Linked DNA regions of Homo sapiens: region 2 is linked to region 1. Evidence: fine-mapped expression QTL. Tissue or cell type: B cells. Region 1 holds a variant in brackets; the other region holds the start of a gene. All regions are shown on one strand. Distances are from middle to middle.

Region 1 (8,103 bases):
TACAGGAAACTGTTTTCCTGCTGCTTTATTAATTTTGCTACAGAGGATAAATGAGATGCAGACTTTCATATCCAAGTCTTCATTAGATGCCCAGTTAATGCAGCCATGACAAATGGGAATGAAGCCCTTATGAATAAAAAAAAGATCAACCCAGTATAAAAAAATCATAGACCAGAGAAATGAAAATTTAGAGGAGCTGATAAAATACCCTATCCTTAATTAGACTGTCAGCATACACATCAAATCAGCCTTAATGCCAAGATTTATTGGCCTTGGAATTGGGTAAATGAAATAAGTGCTTACAAATGAATGGAAAAGAAATTACCTGTATTAAAACGTATTTGTGATGCAGGCCTGTGCACTGAGGGTTTTAGTCAAACTCAGGCTTGCAGCTTCTTTTGCTCTGCATCCATTTCCACCCCATGTTCCCCAGTGGGTTTCAGAGACCCTCTTTGTGGGGTAACAATATGTACCATTGTCAACTACCTCTGCTGTTGTCCTGGAAAAATCCTTCTTGGACAGTAAAATATTTTTGTCTTTATTTCACCATCTCCAGATTAGATGGGTGTTACTGATTCTTACCTCAGAGAAGAGAATGTCATGGAGACAAAATGACCTGCTTAGAGTTCTGCACCCCCCAGCATGGAGAGCAGAGCGCAAAGATTTCTTCCGGACTCCCACATTCCCCTTGGAATCCAAGAACTGGTCTACTGTCACAACACTTTAGTACCCTCTTGTAAGCCTGTGGACAAATCCTCTGATGCCTTGATACCTCGGTTTTCCCCCACTATAAATGGGAAGATAAATTCACTAGAAACAGTACTTACCTTGCAGTGTCATTATGAGAATTTCATGAGACAATGCAATATAAAGCTCCTAGCACAGTTCCAGGCACCATTGTAAGCACTGAACAAATGAAAGCTGTTGTCATTAGGATCTCAAGAAATGACAGCTGAGGCAAATGTGGATTAGACTGCATTCAGCATTCTTAGCTGCAAGCAACAGAAGCTGACGCTGGTTTAAAGAATAGGAAAGGAAGTTAATTAAAATGACATTGGGTAGCTTGTGGAACTGGGAGGACTAGAGAGCTCAGTCTAAGTTCTAGTGACAAAGCTTCAAATCATACATGAGGAAAATGCCCCTCTGCAGGAGGAACGTAATCCTGCAATCACTGCTTCCCCTGAAGCCAGATGCCTCTACTGCTGCCCTTCCCAGCAGTGATGGAGCCTGGATCACATACCTGGCTTTAGTTGTAAAGGAGGCTGGAGAGAAAATGCTCTGCTCTATGTAACTGTCTTGAAAGTGGCCCACACATAGCAAAGCCATTCAAAAGCGGGTGAGCAGCATGAAAGCATCCAGAAGGATTCTTGCTTTGCATGAGGGAGAACTCTTGCTCCCAGAGTGTGAGACCAGCAGGGGCATTTTCCTCATGTGTGATTAGAAGCTTTGTCACTAGAAGCTTAGACTGAGTAGGACACCTCTGAGTGTGAATGTCCTACCTGAGTTCTGCCTCATGCAAAGCAAGAATCCCTCTGGAGGGATTGACACCACAGCCTCTTCCACAATGTCTCCAAACAACTTTACTGGGCAGCATTCCACTCCTTGACAAACGGGAGAGGTGCATTCTACCTTCTCTCCTGCATGAGCCTAGACTAATATGGAATTTGGGAGTGTTGATCATTGTACTTTGTGCTCCTAGAGATAAGGGTCATCATAAAGCATCTCAGAGTCTCACTGTAGATCCACAGTTCCATTTCTTTATGGATCCCTTACCCCTACTTTGCCAAATTCTATGCAGATAGCAATAATAATTCAGACAGGGCTTCCTCACTGAAGGAGTTTGTGCTCTATATAGTTAATAAGCTAGAGATAATGAAAAAAAAAAAAACTCAACTTGAACTTTGGGTAAGAGAAACTTTTCAGACCAACGATCATTACCAATAACAGCTTCCACGCATGACCCTGCCCGGAGATTGGGGCCTGCACTACTGTTTCCAGGAAACACATTCTTTTGAATTTTTTTATTTTCTTTGTAGAGATGGGGATCTCACTCTGTTGCCCAGGCTGGTCTCAAACTCCTGGCTTCAAGCAATCCTCCTGCTTCGGCCTCCCAAACTTCTGGGATTACAGATATGAGCCACCACGGCTGGCTGACAGGCACCAAATTCTAGGAGAGGACTTGAATAGAGTAGGCATCTGTCTCTCCCCATTCCTTTCAGGGACAGAGCTCTCCTGGTTGGGAGAAAGGGAGAGGGAGAGGGAGGAGGATGAATAGTGAAGCACCAAACCTCAGAATTAAGGCCTTTTTCTTTTCTTTCTTTCTTTCTTTTTTTTTTTTGAGATGGAGTTTCGCTCTTGTTGCCCAGGCTGGAGTGCAATGGCACAATCTCGGCTCACCGCAACCTCTGCCTCCCAGGTTCAAGCGATTCTCCTGCCTCAGCCTCCCGAGTAGCTGGGATTACAGGCATGCGCCACCACACCCAGTTAACTTTTTTGTATTTTTAGAGACGGGGTTTCTCCATGTTGGTCAAGCTGGTCTCGAACTCCCGACCTCAGGTGCTCTGCCCGACTTAGCCTCCCAAAGTGCTAGGATTACAGGCGTGAGCCACCATGCCCAGCCAGAATCAGGGCCTTTTTAAAACTTCAGTGTCTTGTCTTTACCCTTCATGGTGCCTAGAAAAGCATCTGGCTCATAGGTGTTCAGTGAATGATTGTTTCATTAGTGAAGAAATTCCCTTTGGAAATCTCATAGGAAACTTACCCTCTCCAACCCTTCACCTGTGCATTATTCCAGCTCCCAAGGAGGCAGCAGAAACTGGGGTAATCACAACGGTCAACAGCAGCAAAGGCAGCACTTTCTGATTTACTTGACTGCTATGGATGCCACCTCTCTCCACGCCTCAGTTTAATATCTGTAAGTTTGGTCAGTATCTCATTCAAGAACATTGCATTTACTCTGGTACTTAAAGATGAAAAATCAACATTTACAAAGCAGATCCATTGTCAACCTAAATAACAAACAAAGAGAGTCTCTATAAAAGAAAAGAATATTTATTTGGGAATAGAGCATTGCATAGGAATATGCCTGCCTTAGTAATGCATGTATTCAGGGAGGTAGAGGAAGACAAAGGTTTTTAACAGAAAAAATGTGGAGAATTACATAATTGTTTTGAAATAATTATCCTTGGCTATAAAGATCAATAACAAGGGTGATGCGAGTCCAAGGTTGGACAGGCAGTTGCTGGGCAGATGTCTTTGCAGAAGTCTTTTTTGTGTAAGGTTGTAATGGCTTTTGTAGGAGGTTGTGGCTTTTGCAATCTTTTGTGATAGCTTTTGTTACCAGGCATACAAGCATGAGAATGCTCTCTTCAGGGCCTTCCCTAGCTCTATTTATCAGGGGTTTCTTGTTAGTGATTCCATTTTGATTCTGACAACTTTCATGGACATTATCTCATTTAATCTCACAGTCATTCCATGACTCTATCCCCATTTTGTGAATGAAGTAACTGAGGTCTGGAGAGGTCAACTAACTGGTCAAGGTCATAGAACTTGAAAATTTTCATTGTCTTG[G/T]GTCTCTAATACTGGGGCTGACCATTCTCCCAGGCAATGTTGAGTGAGTTGGCCCAGGTGAGTCGGCTCCTCTGCAATTGTGTCTCCTCAACTAGTTTGAACAACACAGGCCTGTGAGCCAGTCCCATAAAGTGGCTAGGGGTTCCCTTCTCCCCATTTCCCCTCATCAACAGGAGGACTTGTCTGTGTGCCTTCAGACACCACACAGTAAATCAACTGCCACATTCATTCTGGACCATCAGTATTTTGCCCCAGGAGAAAGTCAGAGGCAAGCACACTAATATCTCATTGATATTTTCAATTGCCAAAGGGGAAGTGAGATGAATCTAATCCCATCTGTCAAGGTGGAGAAGAGCTGATTCGAAAGCAGCATAGATTACTTTAAGGAGATGACAGTTTATCACTCTCTGGACAAGGGAATATGAAATGAGGACTAACCTCCTTTATGAGTTGGTAAAAACATTGATCAGCAAAGACAATGTCTGGGGAAATGAACAGCAAGTTCTCTGGCCCTTTTTCCACTTTTCCTTTCCCCGAGACTTTATGTTATATATACACACTCACACAAACAGGACAGAATCCACCTCCTGCCCCTCAAGAAATAGTTAACATTTGTTGAGGATTAATTATTGCCAGGCTCTGTACTCCATGTTTTATATTTACTATCCAGAAGCCTTAATTGTTAAATGAGGTAAGTGTTATTATTAGAACCTTTGTACAGATGTGGAAACTGAGGTGTATAGAGGTTGACTTGCCCAAGGTTACCCAGCTAGTGAAGAATGAAATCAGATGCAGTCCAGCCAACGCTTGGCCTGCCGTCAGTCACACGCAGTACACGTAGATCAGTCAGCCTGGAAAGCCACCTAGACAGCCCTGCTTCACTCCATCCTTGGTCAGCACCTTAGAGAGCCCTGCTGACCCCAAGAGGATGTGCCTTTTACGGGTTGTAGAGGCTGAACCACAGCTGAGGGGCTGGAATGAGTGGGGGCCTCAGACAGGGTGTCTGGAGAGCTGAGGCTCAAGGAAGGGTGGAGGGGGTGCTGAAGCTGAAGGCCGTGGGTCTTGCCAGCAAGTGGGGCTCAGTGAGCCGAGGTGCCTCTCAGTTACTTCCATGTGTGAATTTCCGGTGGAGGACAGTGATGGGCTCTGGGCCCTTGGAAACCGGGACATCCAGCGTGTCCAGCCACAGTGCAGGCTGCCCTGGCTGCTGAGAGTCTCAGAAAATGCCACTGTCATGGGTTAGGAAGGCCTGGGGACCACAACAATGTGACTTCAAAAAACCCAAGAAGGAATGTGCACACCTGAGATGCTCAGAATGCATGTGTCAGTGTTCAGTTCTGACTCCTTGCTTCAGCCAGGGACAGAAGAACCTTCTACAGTAAAGAACCACAAGAGAGGGCTTTGCTGCCAGCCTCAGCCAGGGACACTTGGCGGCCAAAGCAAAGGTCACTCCAGGGCTGCAGATTTCAGCCTCTGCGGCCAGAAACAAGCTTCCCAATTAATAATACTCTGGATCGGACAGAGATGGCTGCTCTGTCTCAGGCGTGTTTGCCGTTGATCCCTGTGATTGATGCTGATAACATTAAGAGTCTGTCAGGGTGATATTTCATGAATGTCTCATGTGATGGGATGATACAGTCGGGAAATGCAATTCCCTAGCTCAGGCAGAATCAGAGATGACCCAAAGTGCTGATGGAAAGGCTGAGGCCCTTTCCAGCCTCTGGCAGGGTAGGGAAAGCGGGTGAGGTGGGGGCTTGGGAGGGGCTGGGCTGACCTAGAGCTGTAACAGGGGTCTCTCATGAAGGGCTGTGAAGAGAAACAGTATGTGAGAGAGGCAAGAAACTTTTCTCTGGGTTTCCTCATGTAGAATGATTCCATCTGTGTAGGCCATGAAGGAGTCCAGGGAAGTTCACCCCAAAATGTTGAAACCACCTTTGCAAAGATTATGACAGTGAGAGAAGCCTGGCATGGCTGACTCTATCTTGCTTCTAGCCTCACAGGCTGGCTGTTCTGTCTCATTCCTGGGCATAGGCCAAGCTAATCTTGGGAGGGATTTATGGTTTAACTTTGAAGCCAGGATCATAATTGTCCCTCCCTAAAACTGACCCCTTTCTTGTTCAGGGACTGAAACTGCCTTTGTAAGACTAATGAAAGGCCACAAAATTAGGATTATGGAAGGGGCCTGAATTCTGATAAGATGTAGGCATAGCTTGCCTTTCTGTCATCGTTTATTGCACTGGCACTCACAAGATTTGTAACTTCCCCAATTGGTCCCATAGATAACATCACTATTGTAGAACCTCAGATTGGTCTTTTGAGATCTTTTTCAGACTTTGGTATTCTGGTGACTGACTCCACCCAGATCCCATGACTCATGACTCAGCTGGTCCTGTGGTTCTTACCCAGTCTGACACAGCACCAGAGGACCGTTTTCCACACTTCTATCTATGATTTCATCCCCAACCAATCAGCACCACCCATTCCCTAGCCCCCTGCCCACCAAATTGATATCCATAAAAACCCTAACCTCTGAGTTCTCAGAGAAACTGATTGGAGTAATAAACTCCTGTCTTCTGTGTGGCTAGCCTTATGTTAATTAAACTCTTTCTTAGGGCAGTACTGCTGTCAGTGAATCAGCTTTATCTGTGCAGTGGGCAAGAAGGACCCACTGGGTGACTACAATATGGCACTTTGGTATGTTGGTTATTTTAAGTTAGAGGCCTTTGATGCTGGAAGAAGCTTTACTCTGATATCTCCTTATCTACCACAAGACTGGATCTGCCAAAGAGAACACAATTGCGTTCCATTCCCTTCCTGAAATCTCATTATCTATGGCAGAAAAGAAGACTGGGGAATGTAATACACAGTATTACACAGTAATGTAACATACTACACAGTATTTACACAAAACATGTAACACAGAATGTACTACACAGTATTTTCACAAAACAATATCTGTCTCTCCAACTCATTCAAATTCTAAAGAGTCATTTACACGTCAATTTGTGTCTTCTACGCCCATTCATTCTCCCTAAGAATCATTTACTACTCCTCAAAAGAATTACCAACATTCTCCATCTCCCACTCCCCTATGAGGAAGGGTATATAAGTTTCTGTCTGGATCTCATTAGATGACTGTGTGATCGTGCTTCTATGATCCCTACCCCACATGTTAAATGAATTTTGTATGCCTTTTTCTTTTATCAATCTGCCTTTTGTTAGGGTATTTTCAGTGGACCTTCAGAAGGCAAAGGGGGAGCTTTCCTTCTTTGACCCTACAGCTATTAGACTTGATTGAGTAAGACACACAATAATGAAAGTAAATAAGAAGAAAAACATTCATCCTGCTGTCTCCAGAGTTTGAAATGTCTGCCTCAAACTTCGATTTCTATCTACCAAAAATTCATGCATTAATCATAAGGCCGATCTCAAAAGTGAATTTTTTTTTTTTTTTGAGAAGGAGTCTCACTCTGTTGCCTAGGCTGGAGTGCAGTGGCACAATCTCAGCTCACTGCAACCTCTGCCTCCTGGGTTCAAGCGATTCTCCTGCCTCAGCCTCCCAAGTAGCTGGGACTACAGGCACGTGCCGCCAAGCCTGGCTAATTTTTATATTTTTAGTACAGACGGGGTTTCACCATATTGGCCAGGCTGGTCTCAAACTCCTGACCTCAAGTGATCCACCCACCTCTGCCTCCCAAAGTGCTGGGATTACAGGCGTGAGCCACCGCGCCTGGACGTGAAAAGTTTTTTGAATTCCCCCATTAGAAATGATCTTCACCCTGACTCCCATAACACTTTGTACATTACTGTAAAAGCATAATATTCAAATATTTACAATATACCTCCTTCAAATATAAAATGGACACATGCCGAAGACTTAGCAACTCATGAAGGAGGGAACCAATAATGTAGTTAAGCTAATTCAAAGAGCATTTTGAGGAAATGAATACTTATGGTCATTTAAAAGGAAATGTTAAAATTTCTAGGTTAAAAATAAAACTTGCCATTGCATATATGGTCAAATGATTTTTGACAAGGGTGCCAAGACCATTCCATGGGGAAAACACAGTCTTTTCAACAAATCGTGTTGGGAAAACTAGATATCCATGTTCAAAAGAATGAACCCTTACCTTACCTTCCACCATATACAAAAATTAACTCAAAATGGATCAAAGACTTAAGCATAAGAGCTAAAATTATAAAATTCTTAGAAGAAAACATAGGGAAAAAGGTCCATGGTATTATATTTGACAATGACTTTTTTTTTTTTTTTTGAGGCAAGATTTCACTCTGTCACCCTGGCTGGAGTTCAATGCAGTGGCACAATCTCAGCTCACTGCAACCTCCACCTTTCAGGCTCAAGCAATCCCCCTACCTCAGCCCCTAAGTAGCTGAGACTACAGGCATGCACCACCAAGCACAGCTAATTTTTGTATTTTTGTACAGAGTTTCGCCATGTTGCCCAGGCTGGTCTCGAACTCCTGAGCTCAAGCTATTCACCTGCCTCAGCCTCCCAAAGTGTTGGGATTACAG
Region 2 (8,103 bases), 210 kb before region 1:
TGCCCAGGCCCGAGCTTCTGATCTCTTCTCTTTAAGAGCTGGGCCTTCAAAGGCCACCTTTGAGCCCCAGATACAACTTCACTGGGATTACCACAGCAACCCAACCCTGCTTTCAGTCCTGAGGCAGAGCCATTCTACTGATCTTCACAAGACCTGAATTACTAGGGCTAGGTTCTCCCCAGAGCCCCTCCCCCACCAACCCCCCTCCCCCCAAAGAAGGCTCTCACATTTGATTTGGAGCCTGCAAGTCTCTGCAGGCTGCTTGGGGTTGGGGGAGGCAGGATGAAGTGAGCTGAGACGCAGACAGGAGGCTGCCAGCCTGCTCTTGCCTTCCCTTCTCTTGTTCCCCCATGAGCGGGGAGGCCCTATCACCCTCTAATGAGTCTGATAAAGCAATTCAATTTTCCAGGCTGGGAGAGAGTGAGGCATGCTGGGAAAGGATGCTGGCTCCTTGGCCTGGACCTGAAGGAGGGTCAGTCCCTGGCAGGAGCTAGAATACCAAAAAGGGAAAGTGTGAGCACCAATGGATAGAACCTTGCCTTGGCCTGGAGCCCCTCACCACAAACAGGTTTCAAAGAAGGAAGATGGAGAGGAGATTGGATGGCTCCAGTCATCCTAAAGAGGCTGAGCCCATACAAAGCTCCCAGTGGGGAAAGGGGAAGGGTAAACGGCTTTGATTTCAGGCTTTCAGCTTCCTACGGACAGGGTCAGCGTCGGCACTCAGAGGGTGAGGACCTTATTATGCGGGTGGAGGGGGGGCCTGGAAAGGGTGCAGGTGCTTGACAGCCTCCATCGGTGCCCCTTTAGAATCTCCCATGGCCCTCTCTTCCTATTCTTTCACCACACCCTCACCCCTGATGAGGGAAACCCGCTGTGGCTGACACCTTCTGTGAACTGGCTTTCAGACAGGTGCTCTTCCCTGACAGCCTGAAGAAGCCAGGGCACTAAGGAGAGGACAAAAGAGAAAAGGTGAAAATGAGGGAAAGAAGCTTGGGGAACTAGGAATTTCCAATAGTGGCTGCTTTGTGGTCTTGCTTAAGCCTGTCAGGTATCAAGGTCTTGGAGGAATGAAGAAGGGAGGGAGTAGGCAGAGTCCCAATGGCAGAGTTAGGCTAGAAGATGTACCTGAGGTCCTGGAATCAACAGGAAGCCCAGAATCAGCTGCCACCCCATCTGCCCACATCACAGCCCCCAGAGCTCAGGGCGAGGTCTGGAGCCAGGATGTTCTAGCACCACCAGAGGGCAGCACCCTCACATCCATGGTAGGCTGTGTCACAGTAGCCTGGGCAGGGGGCTCTCCTATCCTTCCCCGGCTCTGTGTTTTGAGGGAACACCAAGACCTCACACAAAGAAATGATGGGGACAAGTCCCATAGTGCTAACTGCAGCATATCGACTCCCTCAGAGAGGTACACGTAACAGGTGAGCCCAGAGTTCTAGAATAAACCTTCAGCAAGGGTGAGGCATTCTCTGGAGGCCTCAGGACTGAGGCTGAGCTCCCCTCTCCCGAGCTGGTCAGTGCACAGAGCTGGGAGTCCTGGCCCCATGCACCTTTACCCAGCTGCCTCTCTCAGGCTGGGCCCTCTGTTTTTGTCAGCTCTTCCTAGGTTCCTATGCCTGTGTCCCAACTTTCTGATCTTCCTCCCTTCCCTCTTGGCCTCCTTTTTCCCTGGCAGCTTTCTCCCTTTACCCATCTCCCCAGGTGCTCATCACTATCCACAAGCACCGCAGAGTGGAAGCACCAGTTGGGCAGATTTACTAGGATGAGTGGCTGTTTTATTCACTGATGTATTTCCAGTACCCGGAACTGCTTCTGGCATATCGTAGGTATTCAATAAGTGTTCATTGAGTTAATAAGTCAATCAGGGGTGGGATACTATGGGTTTTGTCCCCTTGCCTACTACACTCCCTTTGTTACAATTACTGAGCTCAGTCATCCTGATGAACGGAAAGCAGGGGAGAGACCCCAAGGGACTTTGCCAGGACACGGACCAGATAGGACTTGAAAGTTATTCATTACATTAATATTCTGTGGTTCTTTCTTCCTCACTCCAGTTTCTGGCCTGTCCCGGGTCTTCTCTTCCCAGTCACACTTGGGATATTTCTTTTCACTGCAGCAAACTCAAAGACAGCTAAACTCTGAAATACAAACATCAGTTTCGAGGAGCAGGGACTGGGCACAAAGGGGGTGCCAGTAAATGTGTGTTTCTGATTAACTCACCTCCCCTGCGTGTCAGTACAGATCATCAAAGATCATTGTCATTTTGGTTTTCTGGCCTCATTAATAATGAGACTTTTGCTTGTAAAAATCCCTTGCATTGGCACTGAGCTTTTAACCTTTCCTGAGACACACATAGGCCCTTGTCTTGTTTTTCTCAGTTGAGCTAGGTACTGCCTGATCTGGAACTGGGAAGGTGCACAGGTGTCCAGGGCAGGTGTGTCATTCACCTTTCATTTCTGCCTCAAGATCTCTTTACATCATCCAGACAGGCATGGAGGCTGCCTGAAGCTGTAAAAAAGAAAAAAAAACCCAATGGGGATTAATATGAAGATGTAAAATAGGTTCTGGACTTAACAAAAACAAATGAATCTGGAAATTGCTCTTGGGATAGGGCCAGTAAAGTCCTGTTGGTGCCTACGTTTTGGGTATGGCAGCTTCTCAATCACTTAGCAAACAGGTTCTCAGAGGCAGGCACTGTGGGAGCTATCAAGATGAAAAAGCACAATGCCGCCTGCAGGAGCTCAGGGTTAGGGAGGGGAGAGGAGACATATACACAGGCAAAGTCAAATTGTAATGGGTAGAATAAGAGTAGAAACAGGAAGGGGTCATGAGGCAGGACACGGGCATTTCCTATGTGGACCCCAGAGCAATGACGAGCAAAGGCTTTAACTAATGACTTTTCAGGGCCACCCACCCACTCCACATCCATAAAACATTTCGCGATGAACACAGCCAGAGCTACGGTTTCCTTCCATCCGGCACAAGAAGCGCTTCTCTGCCCAAGGCCACCCCGTCCTCCATTCCATCGCGGGGACTTTGGTGGCTGGGACAGAGGCGGAGAGCATCAAGACCATGGGTGTCTTGGGCTACGTTGGGCCTCCGAGGCGCAGGATGCGGGGCGGGGTGGTCAGAAGGCCCCAACACGGTCCCTGGGAAAGGAGAGGGCAGCCTGATCCTCGCGACAGCGTCTCTACCCTCTTTCTTCCTTGGCCTTCCGTCAGCCGCAGTGAAACGGCAACAGTGCGACCAGCTTGGCGGGGAGGGGGCGAGGGACGAAGCAAGAAGAGCCGGGCGGAGGTTAGAGGTCAGGGGTCGAGAGCGCTTCGGTGTCAGCGGGCTGCGGTGGGAGGAGCTGCGGGCCCGGGGGAGGCGCGGAGCAGGGCTGAGGGGGGCGGGAGGGGTTGCCGGCGGAAGCGCGCAGGGGCGGCGCGCTGGGCTGGGCACTGGCGGCGAGGAGGTGACGCGCTTGGTTGGGGCTCGGCTCCGGGGAGGAAGACTGCGCTCGGTCGCCAGGGCCTGCAGTGAGTCGGATCGGCCCCGCGCTGCGCCGCGCCCCGCCCACCCCGCCCCGCGAAGGGCGCGTCTGGGCGAGGCGGGGCCCCGGAGGAAAAGGCGCCACTGGGGCGTGGCGGCCGCTGCCAGCGCCGGAGGGAGACCATGAGCCCCTAGGGCCCCAGCCCACCGGCGCCGAGGCGCCCCCTCCCCTATGCCACCTCGCGCCCGCCCCCTGCCGCGCGCGAGCCAAGGCCGGCGCCCCGCCCGGAGATGGGCAGACGCGTAGATGGCGTGGCTCCCAGCGCCGCCAGATCGCAGGAACCAGGCGCCGGGGCGTTGCGCTGAGGCTCCCTCTCCGCGCGGCCCGGGAAGCCTGCAGGTGTCCTTGGCCGCTCGGCCGCCGCCCCCGGTACACCTTCGCCAGTGCCCAGAGCCCGGCTCCCCAGAGCGGCCCCGCCCCCCAGGCTCGGCGCCGCGCAGGACGCCCCGTCTGAGGCACCCCCGCCCCAGCGCGGCCCCCGCAGCGCTGCGCCCGGTCCGGCGCAGCTCCCAGCCGCGGACGCAGGACCCGAGGCTCGCTCCTGCGGGCGCGCTTGTTTTCCAGCTGCCGCCTCGCCCTGCGCAGCCCCCGCCCGCCCGGCCGCCGCTCTCTGCTCTGCCCCGCCTGCCTTCCTCGCCCGGCGCTGGATTTATGAATGGGGGGAAGAGGCCACATGCCGCCGCCGCCGCCTCGTGTTGACCGCAAGCAGCCCGGGCCCACGGAGCTCCGGCTGCCGTGAGAGTGTCGGCCTGGCCCCGGCAGCCGCTCGGAGGACTTGTTGCTGCTGCGCTGCCGCCGCTGCGGGGAAGCCGGCTATTCCGGGGCTTGGTGCGGTCTTGGAGCCGGAGGGTGGCCCGTGTGAGCGCGAGCGCCCCGGACCTTCGCGGTGCGCGTGGACTGTGCGCTTCCTCGTCTTTGGTCGGGGTGAAGGCGGGGGCGTGTCCCCGGCCCAGAGCGTTTGTGTGTCCCGTCGTAGCGGGGGACCGCGTGTGTGCTTGCTTCTACTTCCCCGGGTCCTCCCTCTCTGCGCCTCCCTCTCTCCGGAGCTTCCTGCCCTAACCCCAACCACCTGTGTACCGGAGAAATCCAACTCCTCCCGCTCCGCGTCCTAGGGGGATAGGCAGGGGCAAGCCCAAGCCGCAGAGGGGGCCGCCACCGCCTCCTGCCTCCTCTTCGTCTCCTCCCCCTCCCCCGTCTGACGCTGCCTCCTCGGGAAGGGTGTTTGGAGGGCAGCGGCCGCCCCAAGCCGGAGCCCCGCAGCGCTTCTTATGATCAGCTCGGTGTGTGTCTCCTCCTACCGCGGGCGCAAGTCGGGGAACAAGCCTCCGTCCAAAACATGTCTGAAGGAGGAGATGGCCAAGGGCGAGGCGTCGGAGAAGATCATCATCAACGTGGGCGGCACGCGACATGAGACCTACCGCAGCACCCTGCGCACCCTACCGGGAACCCGCCTCGCCTGGCTGGCCGACCCCGACGGCGGGGGCCGGCCCGAGACCGATGGCGGCGGTGTGGGTAGCAGCGGCAGCAGCGGCGGCGGGGGCTGCGAGTTCTTCTTCGACAGGCACCCGGGCGTCTTCGCCTACGTGCTCAACTACTACCGCACCGGCAAGCTGCACTGCCCCGCGGACGTGTGCGGGCCGCTCTTCGAAGAGGAGCTCACCTTCTGGGGCATCGACGAGACCGACGTGGAACCCTGCTGCTGGATGACCTACCGGCAGCACCGCGACGCCGAGGAGGCGCTCGACATCTTCGAGAGCCCGGACGGAGGCGGCAGCGGCGCGGGGCCCAGCGACGAGGCCGGCGACGATGAGCGGGAGCTGGCCCTGCAGCGACTGGGCCCCCACGAGGGAGGCGCGGGCCATGGCGCCGGGTCTGGGGGCTGCCGCGGCTGGCAGCCCCGCATGTGGGCGCTCTTCGAGGATCCCTACTCCTCCCGGGCCGCTAGGGTGAGTGGCAGGAGCCCGTGTCTCCCCATCTTGGGTCTGCAAGGGGTCCGTGGTGGGTGGTGGGTAGGGGCCGGGAGGAGCAGGGACCGAGCCTGACTTACCTTACCACCGCAGATTGTTCCCGCCTTCCTCTCAACCCCCCTCCGTGGCTCGCAGGGGAATTACACACTCCCACCCTCTCCCCTGCACGCTCCATCAGGAGATTGCACACACTTGACTTACTACTTGGACCCAGTCCCAGCTGCCTGCTTTGCCGCATCCCCTCCAGTGAGTGGGGTGCCCAGCTCAGCTCCTCCACCCCCTTCTTTGGTCTGCACAGGCTGCCCTATCTTCAGCTGCCCTCCACTCCACACAGGACTACGGTCCTGGAAGAGCTGGAATTTGGTCTTCTGATGGGGGCAGGCAGGGTTGAGAGGAAGGAAACTAGGGTGGGTTTTGTTAGATGCTTCCATGCCGTGCCACCTCATTTACATCCTCCCAGCAGCTCAGTGTGCTCACAACTATGCACTTCAGAGAGGAGGATATAGGCTTCAGCATCTTAAGCTCAGAAGAGGCAAAGCTGAGACCACAATCCGGCCTCCTTTCCAGGTTTAAGAAAGGCATTCTTTCTGCCAGGGAGGATACCATGCCCCTGAGGCTTCCTGCACACCTGGGATGTCCTGGCCTCAGCTGGGGTGAGAGGAGAATTAAACACGAAGGGCCTAGCGTTCTAGGCTCTGCAGGCTCCCACGGCCAGTGGCCAGCCACAGGCTTCCTGGTGATGATACCAGATTTTTGTTGCCGCTTCTTTTCTTTCTGCTGCAGCACAAACTGTCTTTCCAGAAAGCCCTGGTTCAGGTTACTGCTTGAAATGGGTGTATGAGGGAAGGGGGAAGCACAGGTTGATTTAGGCAAGACCTACCGCCTCCTCCCCAAGTAAATCCAGTTTCCCTAACTCCTTTAGGTGAAAGGGGAGAACGGGGGAGGTGCTTCCCCCATTATGCTTCGACAGCTAAAAAAAAAAAAAAAAAAAAAAAAAAATCCCTGAAGGATGGCTTTAGATTCTTTAAAGAAAGAAAACTCTGGGGGCTGGTGTCGGATCTCATGGTCAGCAGCCTAAAGCCTGGCTGGAGTCTGTCTGGGAGACAGGAAAGAGCAATGTAACTTGTTGGGTCTGGGGACTGCTGCTTGCTGTGGAACCTGGTTGGTTCCTCCAGCATCCCAAATTGTCATGTTAATGAGTCTCAGAGCACCCTCCCTTTCCCAGCACCCCTGTGCTGGACTCCTTCCTAGTCATAGAAGAAGGCAGGGTAGGGAATTGGGGAACAGGCCTGCAGGGAAAAGCCAGGCTGGCATAAATGCCAGGCCAGGGCAGATGCATCTTCTGCCTGGAAGAGAAGGGAGGAGCAGAGGTCTCAGGGGCCATGGCATACCGGGCTGGGGCTGCAGGCAGCCACGAGAAGGCAGGGATCTTTCTCAGGACTGACAACAAAGCTAGAGGCAACTGTCTGGGTTTCTTTCCTTGCAGCCCTGAGACTGGCTAAGAAGGTGAGGGCATAGTGATGCCCCTGGCCTGGGTCTGCTGTGAGTTCTACAGACTTCTCATGTAGGTCACTAACCTTGCTAGTGTTAGCACTTGGCTGTCTGCATTAGGGGAGAGAGGGCAGGCACACATCATTCAGACTCTTTCAAAGTTGGGGGTCGGGGAGGAGAGATAGAGATAGAGATGGGGAAAGGGGACAAACCAGGGAAGCAGGGATGAGATGAGGTGGTTAGGGGAGCTAGGCCCTATTTCTGAGCATTCTGGGACTTCTAGGGGCTTTTCACCTGCTCTTCTTCCCCTCTGGAATTCCAGGTGGCACCCCACATATCATTGAGTTTATTTTCTTCCTAACTCACTGCTGAATGGCCAAGCCAGGGGGCCTCTTTGAGTAAGCTCAGAGCCTGGCCTGCCCCTGGAAGTCTTCCCAGGAACCCAGGGTGCTTTGCCCCTTTGACATGGAATCACATCAGCCCAGGCATTCCAGTTGAGGTCTTGAAGTTTATGATGGAGCAAGGTTAATTCTTCCATTTAAACATTGAGAAAACCAGGATTCAGAGACATTAAGTTTCTTGCCAAAGACATTTAACTAATAGCAGAGGCAGGAAACCACCCCTAGTTTCCAGCCTTCTGGTTGTTCATCCTGATGTGAATATCTGGATGGAGCTCTGGCCAACACATGCACTAAAAGAGGACTTGCCTCCTGCTCAGGAGCCCAGGCAAAGGCAACCCTCACCTGCTCCCGGGACACACAAGTGGGAATACATAATTTTTACAAATTAATGAATAACTGCTCATTATTGAGCACCCCAGACAGATACATTGCTGTATATACTTTACATTAATCTCTAATCCTCCCAATAAACTTAAAACCCGGTGATTATCCCCGTTTAATAGATTGAGGCTGTGAGAAGGTAAACAACTTGCCTGAGATCACACAGCCAGATAGTGGCCAGGCTTTGAATCAAAGCCAGAGTCCCTGACTCCCAAGCCCTTGCTCTTGTGATTACAACACCTTCTTTCCACTGAACTAGGCTGTTTTTGAGGCAGAGAGCTTGTTTCTTACTGTAGCCTGAGAAATGTCCTTCTGAGGTTCTGTACCT

Alleles and levels. Alleles are on the strand shown, and positions count from the first base shown. SD is a standard deviation of normalised expression in the study named.
In carriers of allele G in region 1, the expression in B cells of the gene that starts at base 3,618 in region 2 tends to be higher than with T alone (large effect, 1.0 SD a copy in Schmiedel 2018).

Evidence for each region. PIP is the estimated chance that this variant, and not a neighbour inherited with it, causes the effect.
Region 2: KCNC4 starts here. The variant in region 1 is fine-mapped to the expression of KCNC4 in B cells (Schmiedel 2018, PIP 0.95).

What each region holds. Positions count from the first base shown.
Region 1 is chr1:110,415,453-110,423,555 of GRCh38, forward strand. It overlaps LAMTOR5-AS1 (LAMTOR5 and SLC16A4 antisense RNA 1), which reads left to right. Exons shown (of 3, transcript NR_102697.1): 3 at 557-822. Among named protein-coding and RNA genes, the nearest start is that of LAMTOR5-AS1, 12 kb to the left of the region's middle. The variant G/T (reference allele first, on the strand shown) is at 3,571.
Region 2 is chr1:110,206,697-110,214,799 of GRCh38, forward strand. KCNC4 (potassium voltage-gated channel subfamily C member 4) reads left to right here and starts at 3,618. Exons shown (of 4, transcript NM_001039574.3): 1 at 3,618-5,481. The coding sequence starts at 4,804. It overlaps KCNC4-DT (KCNC4 divergent transcript), which reads right to left and starts at 3,291. Exons shown (of 2, transcript NR_046546.1): 1 at 2,915-3,291; 2 at 1,754-2,508. RefSeq lists silencers at 1,216-1,275, 1,286-1,335, 3,298-3,977 and an enhancer at 5,215-6,103.